Homo sapiens: one gene and its partner. The protein of the gene in region 2 purifies or fractionates together with the protein of the main gene of each other region. This does not show direct contact. Each region holds a gene or a part of one and is shown on either strand. Other genes may lie near its edges.

The links. Proteins that work in one complex are often made in the same cells at the same time.
Region 1: the proteins of PISD (region 2) and PSME3IP1 purify together in Homo sapiens (co-immunoprecipitation; 2 studies listed by BioGRID and IntAct, with this or other methods). This does not show direct contact.

The regions. Positions count from the first base shown.
Region 1 is NC_000016.10:57,169,040-57,176,039, forward strand, and holds part of PSME3IP1 (PSME3-interacting protein), read right to left. Parts: exon of another isoform or gene 6,503-7,000; coding exon of another isoform or gene 6,500-6,502; intron 5,982-6,499; exon of another isoform or gene 5,679-5,981; coding exon of another isoform or gene 5,676-5,678; intron 5,650-5,675; exon of another isoform or gene 5,581-5,649; intron 5,567-5,580; exon of another isoform or gene 5,426-5,566; coding exon of another isoform or gene 5,402-5,425; intron 5,252-5,401; exon of another isoform or gene 5,130-5,251; intron 4,947-5,129; exon of another isoform or gene 4,925-4,946; intron 4,831-4,924; coding exon of another isoform or gene 4,816-4,830; coding exon 4,689-4,815; intron 3,836-4,688; coding exon 3,737-3,835; intron 3,334-3,736; coding exon 3,212-3,333; intron 1-3,211. UniProt on the Homo sapiens protein: Promotes the association of the proteasome activator complex subunit PSME3 with the 20S proteasome and regulates its activity.
Region 2 is NC_000022.11:31,659,138-31,666,708, forward strand, and holds the start of PISD (phosphatidylserine decarboxylase proenzyme, mitochondrial), read right to left. Parts: upstream 3,079-7,571; 5' UTR 3,072-3,078; coding exon 3,007-3,071; intron 1-3,006. UniProt on the Homo sapiens protein: Catalyzes the formation of phosphatidylethanolamine (PtdEtn) from phosphatidylserine (PtdSer). Plays a central role in phospholipid metabolism and in the interorganelle trafficking of phosphatidylserine.

The DNA of each region.
Region 1 (7,000 bases), on a different chromosome or scaffold from region 2:
TTATTCTTTTGAAATGAAGAAAAGTCCTAACCTTTTAGGGGTAGGGGGTGTTAATAATCTTATTTTTGATCCGCAAAGTACAAGCAATTTTTCCTTCTTAAGCCCCTCTTCTCCCAAAATGCTTTAAAAACACAAACACACCTCAAAAATCTCAAGAAATTCATTAGATCAGCATTCTCTTAAAATTGCACCGTTTTTTAACATACACAATACTGCTAAATACTGGTTTAACCTGAGACGAAACAAGAGTTCTGTTATTTACATGGTTTAAACCACAGCTTATTTGTATTCAGAAGTATCCTATTATACAACATATCATATAGTAATCAAGCAAAGCCTAGAAACAGTTCCTAACTTAGAGCTTCAATAAACAAATGTCTAATCCTTCAATTCCTATCTCAACATGTCTCTGGCTACTTGCATGCTTGGGATTAGTGTATTAGATGTCAGTGACTTGGAAGGCCTGCTTTTCTTCAGTTTTTCTAGACAGAACTTTCCAAGTTTCCAGTTAAAGCCCTTATCCCTGGAGCCTCATTGTACTGCAATGTTACCAGGACACAAAGGTTTCTTTTGTCTCACTGCTGCCCTGTTCATTCTTTCCTTTTAATTGAAAACCAAAGGGCATCTCACACTCAACAGCACTTCTCCCCAGATGCTACTTTGGGGGACACTATATGTCTTATTTGCTAGTCTACCAAAATAAAACATAATATCATTCAAGTGAGAAGTGTAATGAATGTATTTCCTTAGAGGAAAAAGCTTGGTGTCTGAAACAACACAATATGGGTATCTGCCTATCTCTACAAACGAACACATATTATTTTGGGGTCATCAGGGTCAGGGAAGGGGGAGTTCAGAATAATCAGCCTCAATCCTACAGTTGAGATTGAGGTATAACTTCCCATGAGCTTCCATCTCCATGTTGCACCTGAATGCCAGTAACAGAACTGGGACTGGAAGCCAGGTCTTTTCCTACCAGTTCTGATGTAAATCAATTCCCAGGGAATCAGGGAATCTGTCCATGTCTTCTCCCATACAACGCTTTTTTTTTTTTTTTTTTTTAAGATAAAGTCTTGCTCTGTCCCCAGCCTGGAGTACAGTGGCGTGACCTTGGCGCACTGCAATCTCCACCTTCCAGGTTCAAGCGATTCTCCTGCCTCAGCCTCCTGAGTAGTTGGGACTACAGGCACAAGCCACCATGCCCGGCTAATTTTTGTATTTTTAGCAGAGACAGGGTTTCACCATTTTGGCCAGGCTGGTCTCAAACTCCTGACCTCAAGCGATCCTCCTGCCTCGGCCTCCCAAAGTGCTGGAATCAAAGGCGTGAGCCACTGTGTCCAGGCCTCCCACGTAACTCTTAAAATGGAATGTGCTGCACATTCTCTGCAAGAAAATACCAACTAGTACATATACACAGTAATGTCGTCCATCTTAGACGTGAAGCCTGTTGGATTACACCAGTGATGTTACTCAACATATAAGCTTGAAATATCCAAATAAGCTTCCTCACATGAAGATAAATGGTCCTATTAATATCTCCTATGAATCATTTATTAATTTATTCACATATTTACTGAGAATCTACTATATGCCAGGCACTGGAGAAATCAGAAGTGACCAAGTCAGATAGTCTTTTTTCTTATGGAGCTCATTTACTTTACATTCTAGCAGGAAAGAGATAAACAAACCAGTAGGCAAATAAATAAAGACAACTTTCAGATAGTGACAAATCTATAAAAAATGATATTACTTGCTGGGTGCGGTGGCTTACGCCTGTAATCCCTGCACTTTGGGATGCTGGAGTGGGCGGATCACCTGAGGTAACGAGTTCGAGACCAGCCTGACCAATATGATGAAACCTCGTCTCTACTAAAAATACAAGAATTAGCTGGGCGTGGTGGCATGCACCTGTAACCCCAGCTACTTGGGAGGCTGAGACAGGAGAATCGCTTGAACCCGGGAGGCGGAGGTTGCAGTGAGACGAGATCGCGCCACTGCAGTCCAGCCTGGGCAACAAGAGAGAAACTCCATCTCAAAAAAAAAAATTGATATTACCGACAGCAATTTTAGGTGGGGTGCTTAGGGAAGGTTTCTAAAAGGGAGAGCTGAGCAGAGGGCTGAGCTGTGAAATGCATCTTGCAAAATCTGAGGGCAGAACATTTTGGGCTGAGGAAACAGCAAGTCTGAGGCCCTGAGATTGACTCAGAAAGCATGGTGAAAGAGAACATAAAGAAGGCCAGCAGGCTGCAGTACAGTCAACATGAGAAAGAGTGGCTTCAAGATGCAAGAAGGAGGCGGGTTGGCCTAAATAATGTAGAACCTTCTACGGCCTGATACAGAGTAAGACTTTAGTCTAAATGTAAGGGGAACCCACTAGACTGTTTCAAATAGAAAAGTGACATGATGCCATGTATGGTTTTTAAAGTTCCCTTTCTTGTCTAAGGAATAGATTATTGAGGATGAGAGCAGAAACAAACCAATTAGATGGTCACAGGAGTCGAGAAGAAAGTCTACTACTACTACAGTAGCAGTAGATACCAACAATTCAAGAGATTTGGAGTACGTTTTGGAAACAGTTCTTGGCCCAGGCACCTGGAGGCATAGGACTACCAGTTACTGGGACTGGGAGGACCAGAAAAAGAAGAGACTTTGGGGAAGGGCAGTGTGATGAGAGTGGGGGTGATGTGGCACAGTATTGAGAATTTTGATTCAGCCAAGTTTCATTTGGGATGTCTATGAAGACATTCAAGTGGATGACCAAAAGGCAACACTGATCTAGAGCAAAGTCATCTTTGCTGCTTTCTCAGCCCTTCTATCAGGACAGGGCATGCTATACCACTAGAGAACATCTTACTAAGAATATAGGAAAGTTGCTAAACATGTTCTTTTAAAACTCAGAGCCCAATTTCTCCCCTGGATGAAGCTGACTGCACTGCCCACCTGTGTCAGAATCTAATCCCAGTACTAGTAGGATTGATGCCTTGAGTTAACCCTAAGAAGGATGTGGACTTTTGACTATAACACTCTTGCACACAACACAAACTCCACAAACCACTACCAGCTTTTCAGAATTACAGGAATATCAGTGTTCAAAGGGACTTGAGAGATCACCAGGTAGAAAACCCTCTTTCTGTTGATGAGGAGACAACATCCATAGATGCTGATGAGAAAATGGACACCTTACAGGTTTTCCTCCAAGTACAAAGGATATTCTGTATTCCTTCAGTTCTTTCAGTTCTTCTTCTCTTCGTTGCTTTTCTATTAGTTCCTGCTGTCGAGAAACCTCATCAAGGAAGTTGGTCTCATCTTCATCTAAGCCTCTTACCATGTTTTCTGAGGAAATAATTAAACAAGGCACACTTAGCAGGCTAAAGGGAAAAATAAGATTTTTCCTTTCCCCTTTTTAAATAAGCAGCAGATTCTTCAGGGGATTAAAAAAAAAAGAACTGGTAAATACCATGGCGTTTGAATAGATAACAGGGCATAAAAAAAAACAAGGCATTTTTTCCCATTACTAAATATTACCATAGAATTAAAATGGGTGTTTTGAGCTCTAAACAAAAATATTCAATGTGGTCTAGAAGGCTGAAGGCTGTCTCTTTTCCACCAAATAAGCATCCGGAGACTCGAAAATCAAGACAATTCCACGGCTAGTTAGGAAAAGTGCTGCACAAGGCAAAAGTGCGTCAAAAGTACCCCACAGAGCCCCTTGAACTCTCTGTTTTCTGAAGCTTACTGAATTTGAACTGTTCCTCGTACTCCTGCTGCTTCCTGTCCTTCTGTTCCTGTAGCCTTTCATATAGAGATCGAGGGTCATAAACCTCCTCTGGACATTCTGAAAGGAAAAGGAGAGGGGAGAGAGGTGGACGGGGAGGAGATATACACTTCAGATTGTTTTCATATTATTTTGGAATCACAAAAGGTTTTAAAGACAAAGTCAAGTCTCTGCATGATCTGAGGGTGTGGATAACACAAAAATAGTACAAAGTCCAGTTTCCCTTTGGACCTCAGAGAGGGGCCACCAGTTCTCAAAGCCAACTATCAATGTCAATAGCGCCCATGGCCTGAGACAGTTAACTGATTGAGGGGCCAGCCCAAACCCTCCACAGCAGCAGTGTTCTCAGTTGTTCAGACCATGGATCCACCTGTATAGATGGAGGAGAGGAGCAGAATCTCTTGGAAGGAAGTGTGGTAGGCAGAAAAGAAGCAGGATGTGAGTATGCTGGCTCTGCTCCCAGCTGTGCAGGACCTTACATAGGTGACTTCGCCCCTGAGTCTCAGTTCCTCAACTCTAAAGTATGGACAATTGGCCAGGCATGGTGGCTCACACCTGTAATCCCAGCACTTTGGGAGGCCGAGGCAGGAGGATGGCTTGAGCTCAGGAGTTTGGAACCAGCCTGGCCAACAGATGAAACTCCATCTCTACCAAAAATACAAAAATTAGCCAGGCGTGGTGGCTGGTGCCTGTAATCCCAACTACTCGGAAGGCTAAGGCAGGAGAATCTCCTGAGCCTGGGAGGCAGAGGTTGCAGTGAGCCAAGATCGCGCCACTGCACTCCAGCCTGGGCAACAGAGTGAGACTCCGTCTCAAAAAAATAAATAAATAAAACCAAGTGAGGACAATTAATACCTACTCTGCAGGGTTGCTGTGTGGATTAAAGACCATTATACTGACTGTCACAGTATACCTTCTGGATCTTCAGGTTTTCGAACTTTCTCCCATTCTTCTTGCCTCCTTTTGCGCCGTTCATCTAGTTCTGCCTCAGACACAAACCTCTTTTTGATAATAAGGTTACCATCATCCCCTCCATCCATAATGAAACAACCAATCTACAAAACAAAAACAAAAACAAAAAAAATCATTTCAAGTGAGAACTGCAATTAAAATTCTAAAGAGAAACAAGGAGATTTAGCTCCATCTCACCCAGCAACAAACTAAAAATTATCTTCCAACTTTGAATTGAAAAAATTCTCGGCCGGGTGCGGTGGCTCATGCCTGTAATCCTGGCACTTTGGGAGGCCGAGGCGCATGGATCACGAGGTCAGGAGTTCAAGACCATCCTGACTGACATGGTGAAACCCCGTCTCTACTAAAAATACAAAAATTAGCCAGGCACGGTGGCACGCACCTGTAATCCCAGCTACTCAGGAGGCTGAGGCAGGAGAATCGCTTGAACCTGGGAGGCGGAGGTTGCAGTGAGCCAAGATCACACCGCTGCACCCCAGCTTGAGCGACAGGGCAAGATTCTGTCTCAAAAAAAAAAAAAACTCTCAAATAGTTTAATTTATAGGCCATTGATGAAAGCACATGAATACATTTTTCCTGACATATCAGAGAATTTTTATTAACATCGATGTTATCTACACAGTTGGCAAGAGGACCTGGGATAATTCTTATTACCTGGTGTTCCATAGTAAATCTCATATTGCAGCTATTTCTCTGTCCCTCTAATCTAGAAAAATTGGCCTCCTGAGCATCCCATCCTTTTCCCAGCTCTCATCCTCCTTTATTTCTGTAACATCTGACATTGTTTCTTCTTGAAATTCCTGTTTCTGAGACATTACACTATCTTGATTCACCTGCTCTTGCCTCCAAGTAGATTAAGATGGAGAATCTCAGCTATTGAAGACTTAGTGTTCAAGTCCAGTCTGTATAGCAGGGAAGGTGCACAAACCATGAATGGAGAAAGTGAGACTGGAAGAACAGATCTCCCAACTTCAGTTCCACGTACTTTCCTGAATACTAATCTGACTCTTCATTTATATCTCTTCTGACCTTCCTCCCTGTAAACCCCTTGTCTGTGCCATTTAAGATTTGAACTTCAATCCTTCTCTTTTCTCACTCCCACAATCACCTCAACCATTTTATGCATATTTTGACACAGAAGATTACCGAATCTGTTATTTCTACCTGAGCTTTTCTTCAAAGAGGAGAGAAGGAAATAAAGATAGCAGAGTGTATATTACTTATTACTCCTTTTTTTTTTTTTTTTGAGATGAAGTCTCGTTCTGTCACCCAAGCTGGAGTCCAGTGGTGCAATCTCAGCTCACTGCAACCTCCGCCTCCCAGGTTCAAGCGATTCTCCTGCCTCCGCCTCCTGACTAGCTGGGACTACAGGCGTGTGCCAACACGCCCAGCTAATTTTTGAATTTTTAGTAGAGATGGGGTTTCACTATGTTGGCCAGGCTTGTCTCGAACTCCTGAACTCGTGATCTGCCCGCCTAGGCCTCCCAAAGTGCTGGGATTACAGGGGTGAGCCACCGCACCTGGCCATATTACTCCTTTTAAACTAAACCTCTGTTTTTCTTTATTGGTTTCTTTCCTTTTGAGTAACTGTGGAATTAACCCCTACCCAGACATGTTATTCACAGCACTATGTGCTAACAAGGAGGCACATATTCAATCCAATGTCCATTCCAAGATAACCACTAACAACAAAAACAGTAAGTTTCCACGCTACCACAAAAATAAAGCAGCTAACAGTTAATGAGCTCTTACCATGTATTATATTCCTTTTATGGATATTATCTAATTTACATGATCATTGACCCTATGAGAAATATTATCTGTTTACAGATGAAGTTGAGGTCCAGAGGAGTTAGATTATTTGTCTAAGGTGATACAGGTGGTGAATGGTAGAGCTGAGAACCAAATCCAGGCCTGATATCAAAAATGCATACTCTTACCAACTTTACCATACTCCTCCCCAGAAAACACTAAATCTTAGTTGAAAACAAAGACATGTCGACTTCAGCTTTCTTCCTACTTCAAATTCCAGTGCTGAGAATATTCATGCAACATTTTTATTTAGTAAAGCTAGAAATGGAAGCTGAAAAAACAAACCCAAACGTTCAGAACAAGAGAATAGTCTCAGCCTGAATACTACTGTTGCTGAGGTTTAGTTTAATGTAACAATAAGAGCGAATTGTGAAAATTACTAGAAAGAAATGAAATCAACTGACAGACGCTGTTGCTCCCACCTAAAGCCCACAACCTGGA
Region 2 (7,571 bases):
GACACCACGCCCAGGCCTAAGACATTTTTAACATCACCCCTAGTAGTAACATTTTGCCTATAGTCCTTATGTCTCCCTTGCTTTCTAAAGCTGTGAAAGTTCTCCTAAAACAGAACGGACAGACCTCTTGAAGGCTTTATCCCGTATTCCACCATGTATTACAAGTATATAGTAAAGTTCCTTGAAGACAAGGCCTATTTCAAATGTTTTTAATTTCTTCATTTGCTCCCCTTCCCTTCTCTCTTCTCCCTTCTCTATGGTCCGTTGACAGTGTGGTTTGCAGTGGTAGGGATGCCATAAATATTTCTGATGGAAGTCATGCACGAGAAGCTACTTCCTAGGTACTATTGTCCGTACTTGCCTGAACCTAAGAATCACCTGTAAAAACTACAGTTGCCAGAGCCCCAACTTATATCTACTGAATCTGAAATTGGCAGTAGGATGGGGGCATATCTGGAATCTTTTTTTTTTTGAGACGGAGTCTTGCTCTGTTGCCGAAGCTGGAGTCCAGTGGCGTGATCTCGGCTCACTGCAACTTCCGCCTCCCGGGTTCAGGAGATTCTCCTGCCTCAACCTCCTGAGTAGTTGGGACTACAGACACACGCCACCACACCCGGCTAATTTTTGTTAGAGACGGGGTTTCAGCATGTTGGCCAGGCTGGTCTCGATCTCCTGACCTCATGATCCACCCACCTTGGCCTCCCAAAGTGCTGGGATTACAGGCATGCGCCACCGTGCCCGGCTTTGTTTTTTTTAATCAGCCAGCCTCCCAAACTACAGCAGGCTCAGAGAGACTCCCAAGGAATCTCTATTTCTAACAAGCATCCCAGCCCATTCAGCCCATTCTTTTATCAAATGAGTTTAGGAAACATGGCCCTAAATTATCACCCAAGATGTTATCTATCACCTGTCACACATCACCCAGTTATTGAAAAACTTACCTGAAATATAAGGTTTTCATTTACATGTCTCACAAATAGGCACTGGTTTACTAAAAACCCACAGAAATGTTATCTTTTTGGTTTGTGTATTAATATCATTTCTATCTTGATATAGAATACCTTTGAAAATTAAGGTTTCTTATTGTACCCAAATCTTCATCTCTCTCACCCACTGCATCTAAGTCTAGCCTTATCTATCTACACTGGTACTAAAACATAGCTTTTTTTCTTTCCCTTTTAATGATGGTGACTGAGGTACAGCCTCCTCTCATCATTTAAAAAAATTATTTTAGGTGGACTGCGATGGCTCACTTCTGTAATGCCAGCACTTAGAGAGGTGAAAGTGGGTGGATCACTTGAGCCCAGGAGTTCAACACCAGCCTGGGCAACATGGTGAAACCCTGTCTCCACCCCCACCCCCAAAAAAAATGCAGCTGGGCGGGGTGGCGTGCACCTGTGGTCCTAGCTACTCAGGAGGCTGAGGTGGAAGAACTGCTTGAGACCAGGAGGTGGAGGCTGCAGTGAGCCATCATCACACCACTGCACTCCCTCTTGGGCAACAGAGTGAGGCTCTGACTTCCAAAACAAATAACAACAACAAAAAACAATTTTTTAAGAGTCTCATTTTAGTCCTTTCAATTCGTGACACACTTTATTTATTTTTAATTTTTTTGAGACAGAGTCTCACTCTGTCGCCCAGGCTGGACTCCAGCGGCGCAGTCTTGGCTTATTGCAACCTCCGCCTCCCAGGTTCAAGCAATTCTCCTGCCTCAGCCTCCCAAGTAGCTGGGATTACAGGTGCCTGCCACCATGCCCGGCTAATTTTTGTATTTTTTAGTAGAGACAGGGTTTCACCACATTGGCCAGGCTGGTCTCGAACTCCTGACCTCAAGTGATCCACCCACCTTGGCCTACCAAAGTGCTGAGGTTACAGGCGTGAGCCACCGCGCCCAGCCTGTGACACACTTTAAATGAATTCAGGGTTGACTCATACACAGCACGCCTGGTAATAACATTGAAAACAAAGTCTCCTGCCCAAATTCTAACAGTTACCACCACAATGCAGAGCCCTCTCCTGAGAGATAATCATTTCTGTACAGTTAATGATGAAAGAGTGACGCTTTCATAACAAGACCAATGATGGTTTCTGTTCCCTCTCAGTCCAAATCCAGTGTCCGTCTCCTCCCAAAACAATAGGTTATCCTCTGATCAACGCTGACAAAATGAACCCTGTAGGAAACACACAAGTATGGCGCATCTCTCAAATCTTAGCTCTTTGAAATGACACCAGGCAGCCGACTCTGAATCACAGCTACATTTTAATCCATTTTCCGACACTCCAAATGCTCTAAGCTATTTTCTGTATAACCACTGCCCTCACGGCGGGCAGCCTGAGAGAAAGATCGTCGCGTGAGGGGGTACCTTGATGGGGGTCCGGGCTCTGCTACAAACTGGCTAGGTGAACTTGAGCAAATCCCTCCCTCTCTCGGAGCCTCAATCTCATTAACTCCAAAGAGAGACAGCTGGACTCAGAAGACCCCTCAAGTCTCCCACATTTCTAAGAATCTAACAGCTGGGGGTCACAAGGGTAACCAAGACTCTAGCCCCATAACATATTGTTTTGAGATTACCTAACCTAACCCTCTAGCTTCAAAGACTAAGATCCAGAAATGAAAGTTGCCTGACACTCAATCTAGTGTCCTTCCCACAGGACATCATTCCTTCTACGAAAACGAACACACGAGAAAATGGCATCTGAACATCTGAAAGCCCTGCCTCGACTCAAGAGACGGGCAGGTAGCCTATTTCATCTGATTTTTGTCCCTCGTGAACTTCCACCTAGCTGGAAAGGGCAAAGCGCGAGCTTCTAGGCCACACCCTAAGTAAATCCGGACCGCCCTACGCAGGAGCAGTCGCACCTGCTCCTAAGCTCGAGGTGAAGGTGGCTCCGTCTCCACCCGAGCTCGCCTCAGAGCGAGCCCGCGACACAGAAACATCTCTCTTCAGACCCCAGCTTGGTCCAGGTTGCCCCACGCCCCAAGGTAGTCTCTCCGCGCTGCTATACCTGCTCCGCCACGGCGCGACCCCGTGCAGTAATCCCAGACATCGGTGCCCCACGGACGTCGCCATCTTGTCTGCTCCTTCTCAGCGTGCCACGCCCCCTTCACACGCTGGGCGCACGCTTAAGGCGTCACGAGTCTCGAGTTCAGTGGGCCAATGAGAAAAGCGCGGGTTGGGGGCGGAGCCGACTAAGCTCCGCCCTGTGGCTACTCCCCACCTAACCCGCTTGGCACCTGCGGAGGTAGGGGAACTAGTGGAGCTGTAGGTTTCGCTAAACCTGGGCTTGGTCGCAGCACTGCCACTCCTCCTCCTTCCCTCTGGGTGCCTTTCCTCATGTACCTGGAAAATCTGAGTCATCCAAGATCCAAGAATGTCGTTTCAAGTGATCGAACTTGCTCATTTTACGGATGGGGAAACTGGGCATCCATGACTCAGCTCTCGTTTTTTAAGCGCCGGAGTGTGTTGTGAGCACTTTGCAAGCATGGTGTCATATCATTCTTATCTCCTACCGCTGTGCTGCCAGGGAGACCGGGGGCAAACGGTCTTGGATCACCTAGAAATGCAACCAGTCGTTAAATTCGGTGCCTGGTGCTTGCTCTTGAAAAGGTTCCTATCTTCAATTGTAAGAGGAAAACGAGTTTTCAATCATGTCTGCTACTTTTTACTGAGCACTGACTAGAGACTCGCAGCTAGGCCCGAGACATTATCCCCATTTTAAAGATGAGGTACCTGAGGCTCAGGAAGGTTAAGCAACATCTTCAAGGGTACATAAAGGGCATATGCCCAAAGACTATAAAATAGTGAAGCCAGAATTTGAACATACGTCTCTGACTCCAAAAACCATGTCCTAAACATCTTCTTCTTTTTTTTTTTTTTTTGAGACAGAGTCTCTCATTGTCGCCCAGGCTGGAGTGCAGTGGCGCGATCTCGATTCACTGCAAGCTCCGCCTCCCGGGTTGACGCCATTCTCCTGCCTCAGCCTCCCGAGTAGCTGGGACTACAGGCGCCCGCCACAACGCCCGGCTAATTTTTTTATATATATTTTTCGTAGAGACGGGGTTTCACCATGTTAGCCAGGATGGTCTCGATCTCCTGACCTCGTGATCCGCCCGCCTCGGCTTCTCAAAATGCTGGGATTACAAGCGTGAGCCACCGCACCTGGCCTAAACATTCTTCCTTTTAAGCCCTTTGTCAGAATCTGGCAGAATTTGGGTCCAACAACTGAAGGAATGCAGCCCTACTTTTTCATCTGCTAAGCTGATAATCACAGTTGCCTTCACCAGGCATTTGACAGGAGGAGGAATATGCTCCCTGGTCCCTGCAGGTATTTCTGTGTAGTTGGCTTAAGTTCAACTAGGGCATACTCAGCTCCTACAGAGAGCTTAAAAGGCACCAGGTTTGGTATTGGGGGGAAGAAACCTCCCTTTGTCATGGTTTTCAAAAGTCGGAAAAGAAAAAAACAAATGTATAGAATTGGTTTTGGCCGGGCGCAGTGGCTCACGCCTGCAATCCCCACTCACTGGGAGGCTGAGGTGGGAGGATAGCTTGAGCCAAGGAGTTGAGACCAGCCTGGGCCGGGCGCGGTGGCTCACGCCTGTAATCTCAGCACTTTGGGAGGCCGAGGTGGGCGGATCACGAGGTCAAGAGATTGAGACCATCCTGGCTAACACGATGAAACCCCATCTCTACTAAAAATACAAAAAAAATTAGCCGGGCGTGGTGGCGGGCGCCTGTAGTCCCAGCTACTCTGGAGGCTGAGGCAGGAGGATGGCGTGAACCCGGGAGGCGGACTTGCAGCGAGCCGAGATCGCGCCATTGCACTCCAGCCTGGGTGACAGAGTGAGACTCCGTCTCAAAAAAAAAAAAAAAAAAAAAAAGGAAGTAAAAAAGAGACCAGCCTGGACAACATAGTGAGACTCCATCTCTTTTTTTTTTTTTTTAAGAGGCTGGGCACCGTGGCTCACCCTATGATCCCAGCACTTTGGGAGGCCAAGGCGGGCGGATCACCTGAGGTCAGGAGTTCGAGACCAGCCTGGCCAACATGGTGAAACCCCATCTCTATTAAAAATACAAAAATTAGCTGGGCATAGTGGCGCCTGCCTGTAATCCCAGCTACTCCAGAGGCTGAGGTACGAGAATTGCTTGAACCCGGGAGGGGGAGGTTGCAGTGAGCTGAGATAATGCCATTGCACTCCAGCCTGGGAGACAGAGTGAGACACCATTTAAAAAAAAAATACATATTGGTTTAATTGGTTTTACTATCCAATTGAGAGTAGTAAACCAGCAGGGAATGGGGGGAAATTATTTCCAAATGAAGTGCATTGGGAAAACTGAATATCCATATACAAAAAGTAAAGTGCAGCCTTACACCATATACAAAAATTCATTCAAAATGGATCAGAGATGTAAACTGAAGAGCTAAAACTATAATACTCTTAGACGAAAACATAGGGGAAATCTTCATGACGTTGGATTTAGCAATGATTTCTTGTATATGACGTTAAAAGCACAGGCAACAACAACAAAAACAACAAAAAGATATACTTCGAAATTAAAACTTTTGTGCATCAAAGAACACTATCAAGAGAGTGAAAAGACGCTGGGCGCGGTGTCTCACGCCTGTAACCCCAGCACTTTGGGAGGCCAAGGCGGGCAGATCACCTGAGATCAGGAGTTGGAGACTAGCCTGGCCAACGTGGTGAAACCCTGTCTGTAGTAAAAATACAAAAATTAGCCGCATGTGGTGGCGCAAGCCTGTAATCCCATCTACTCGGGAGGCTGAGGCAAGAGAATCACTTGAATATGGGAGGTGGAGGTTGTGGTGAGCCGAGATCGTACCATTGCACTCCAGCCTGGGCAACAAGAGTGAAACTCTGCCTTAAAAAAAAGAGAGAGAGAGAGAAAAGGCAACCCACAGAATGAAAGAAAATGTTTGCAAATCATGTATTATCTGATAAGGATATTTGCTCATTACTGTCATGTAGATGGGTGGGGAAGAACCTATTTTTCCAAGCTTACAGGAAAATAAATAAATAAATGGCTCACTGAATGCTTTTAGAATAAAAGTCTCCAACTTTATTTTTTGAGACAGAGCCTCACTCTGTTGCCCAGGTTGGAGTGCAGAGATGCGATCTCGGCTCACTGCAGCCTCCACCTCCCGGGTTCAAGCGATTCTCCTGCCTCAGCCTTCCGAGTAGCTGGGACTACAGGCGTGCCACACACCCAGCTAATTTTCGAATTTTTAGTAGAAACGGGTTTTCATCATGTTAGCCGGACTGGTCTCAAATTGCTGACCTCAAGTCTGCCCGCCTCGGCCTCCCAAAGTGCCAGGATTACAGGCGTGAGCCACCGCGCCGGGCCTGACAGTCTCAAACTTTAAAGCACGCTTCCTGCCCACCAAGGCTTGCGCTCGCTGTGCCTCCTTCAGTAGGAAACAGCATTAACTTCCGTAAGATCCTGTCTTTTGAGACCCCGTCTCAAAAAAAAACAACAACAAACCGACTTAAGCACTCGAATCTTCGGCAGCTTATCTATACATTTGGATATCACTTAACCTCATGGAATTGTGAGGACAAAATAATGCAGCGTAAGTTCAAGGCACCTGGTAGGTGCGAATTACTCAACAACTGGGGGCATTAATTTCTGAGATTTCTCTGTGGCCGCTAGGGGGCAGAATTAGCCTAGCATTTAAGAACGAGCTTGCTTGGCTGGGCGCGGTGGCTCACGCCTGTAATCCCAGCACTTTGGGAGGCGGAGACGTGCGCATCACGAGGGCAGGAGATCGAGACCATCCTGGCTAACACGGTGAAACCCCGTCTCTACTAAAAATACAAAAAAATTAGCCGGACGTGGTGGCGGGCGTCTGTAGTCCCAGCTACTCTGGAGGCTGAGGCAGGAGAATGGCGTAAACCCGGAAGGCAGAGCTTGCAGTGAGCTGAGATAGCGCCACTGCACTCCAGCCTGGGCGACAGAGCGAGACTCCGTCTCAAGAAAAAAAAAAAAAACGAGCTTGCCTCAATTTTGTTTTCAAAGGATTTTTGCAGTGTGGATGGTAGTGGCAGAGCTTCGAGGCTTTCGTGAGCCCCAAGCACTTTTGCCTCAGTGGACTGACCCTTTTCTCCATAAAAAATTAAGAATTTTATTTTACAACCGTATTGGTATAAAGACTATTGTCTTTATATTAACACATTTATATTTATAAATCCAAGCTGAATTCATTATTATTATATTCTTTTCCTTTTTTTCCTTTGAGACAGAGTTTCACTCTGTGGCCCAGGCTGGAGTGCAGTGGCCCGCGATATCGGCTCACTGCAATCTCCGCCTACCGGGTTCAAACGATTCTCTTGCCTCAGCCTCTCCAGTGCCTTCAATTACAAGCACTGGCCACCACGCCTGGCTAAATTTTGTATTTTTGTTTAGAGAGACAGGGTTTCGTCATGTTGGCCAGGCTGATCCCAAATTCGGGGGCTCAAGTGATCCTCCTGCCTCGGCCTCCCGAAGTGTTGGGATTACAGGCATGAGCCATCGCACCCAGCCTCATTTTTTAATTTTAATATTAAAAATTTTGTT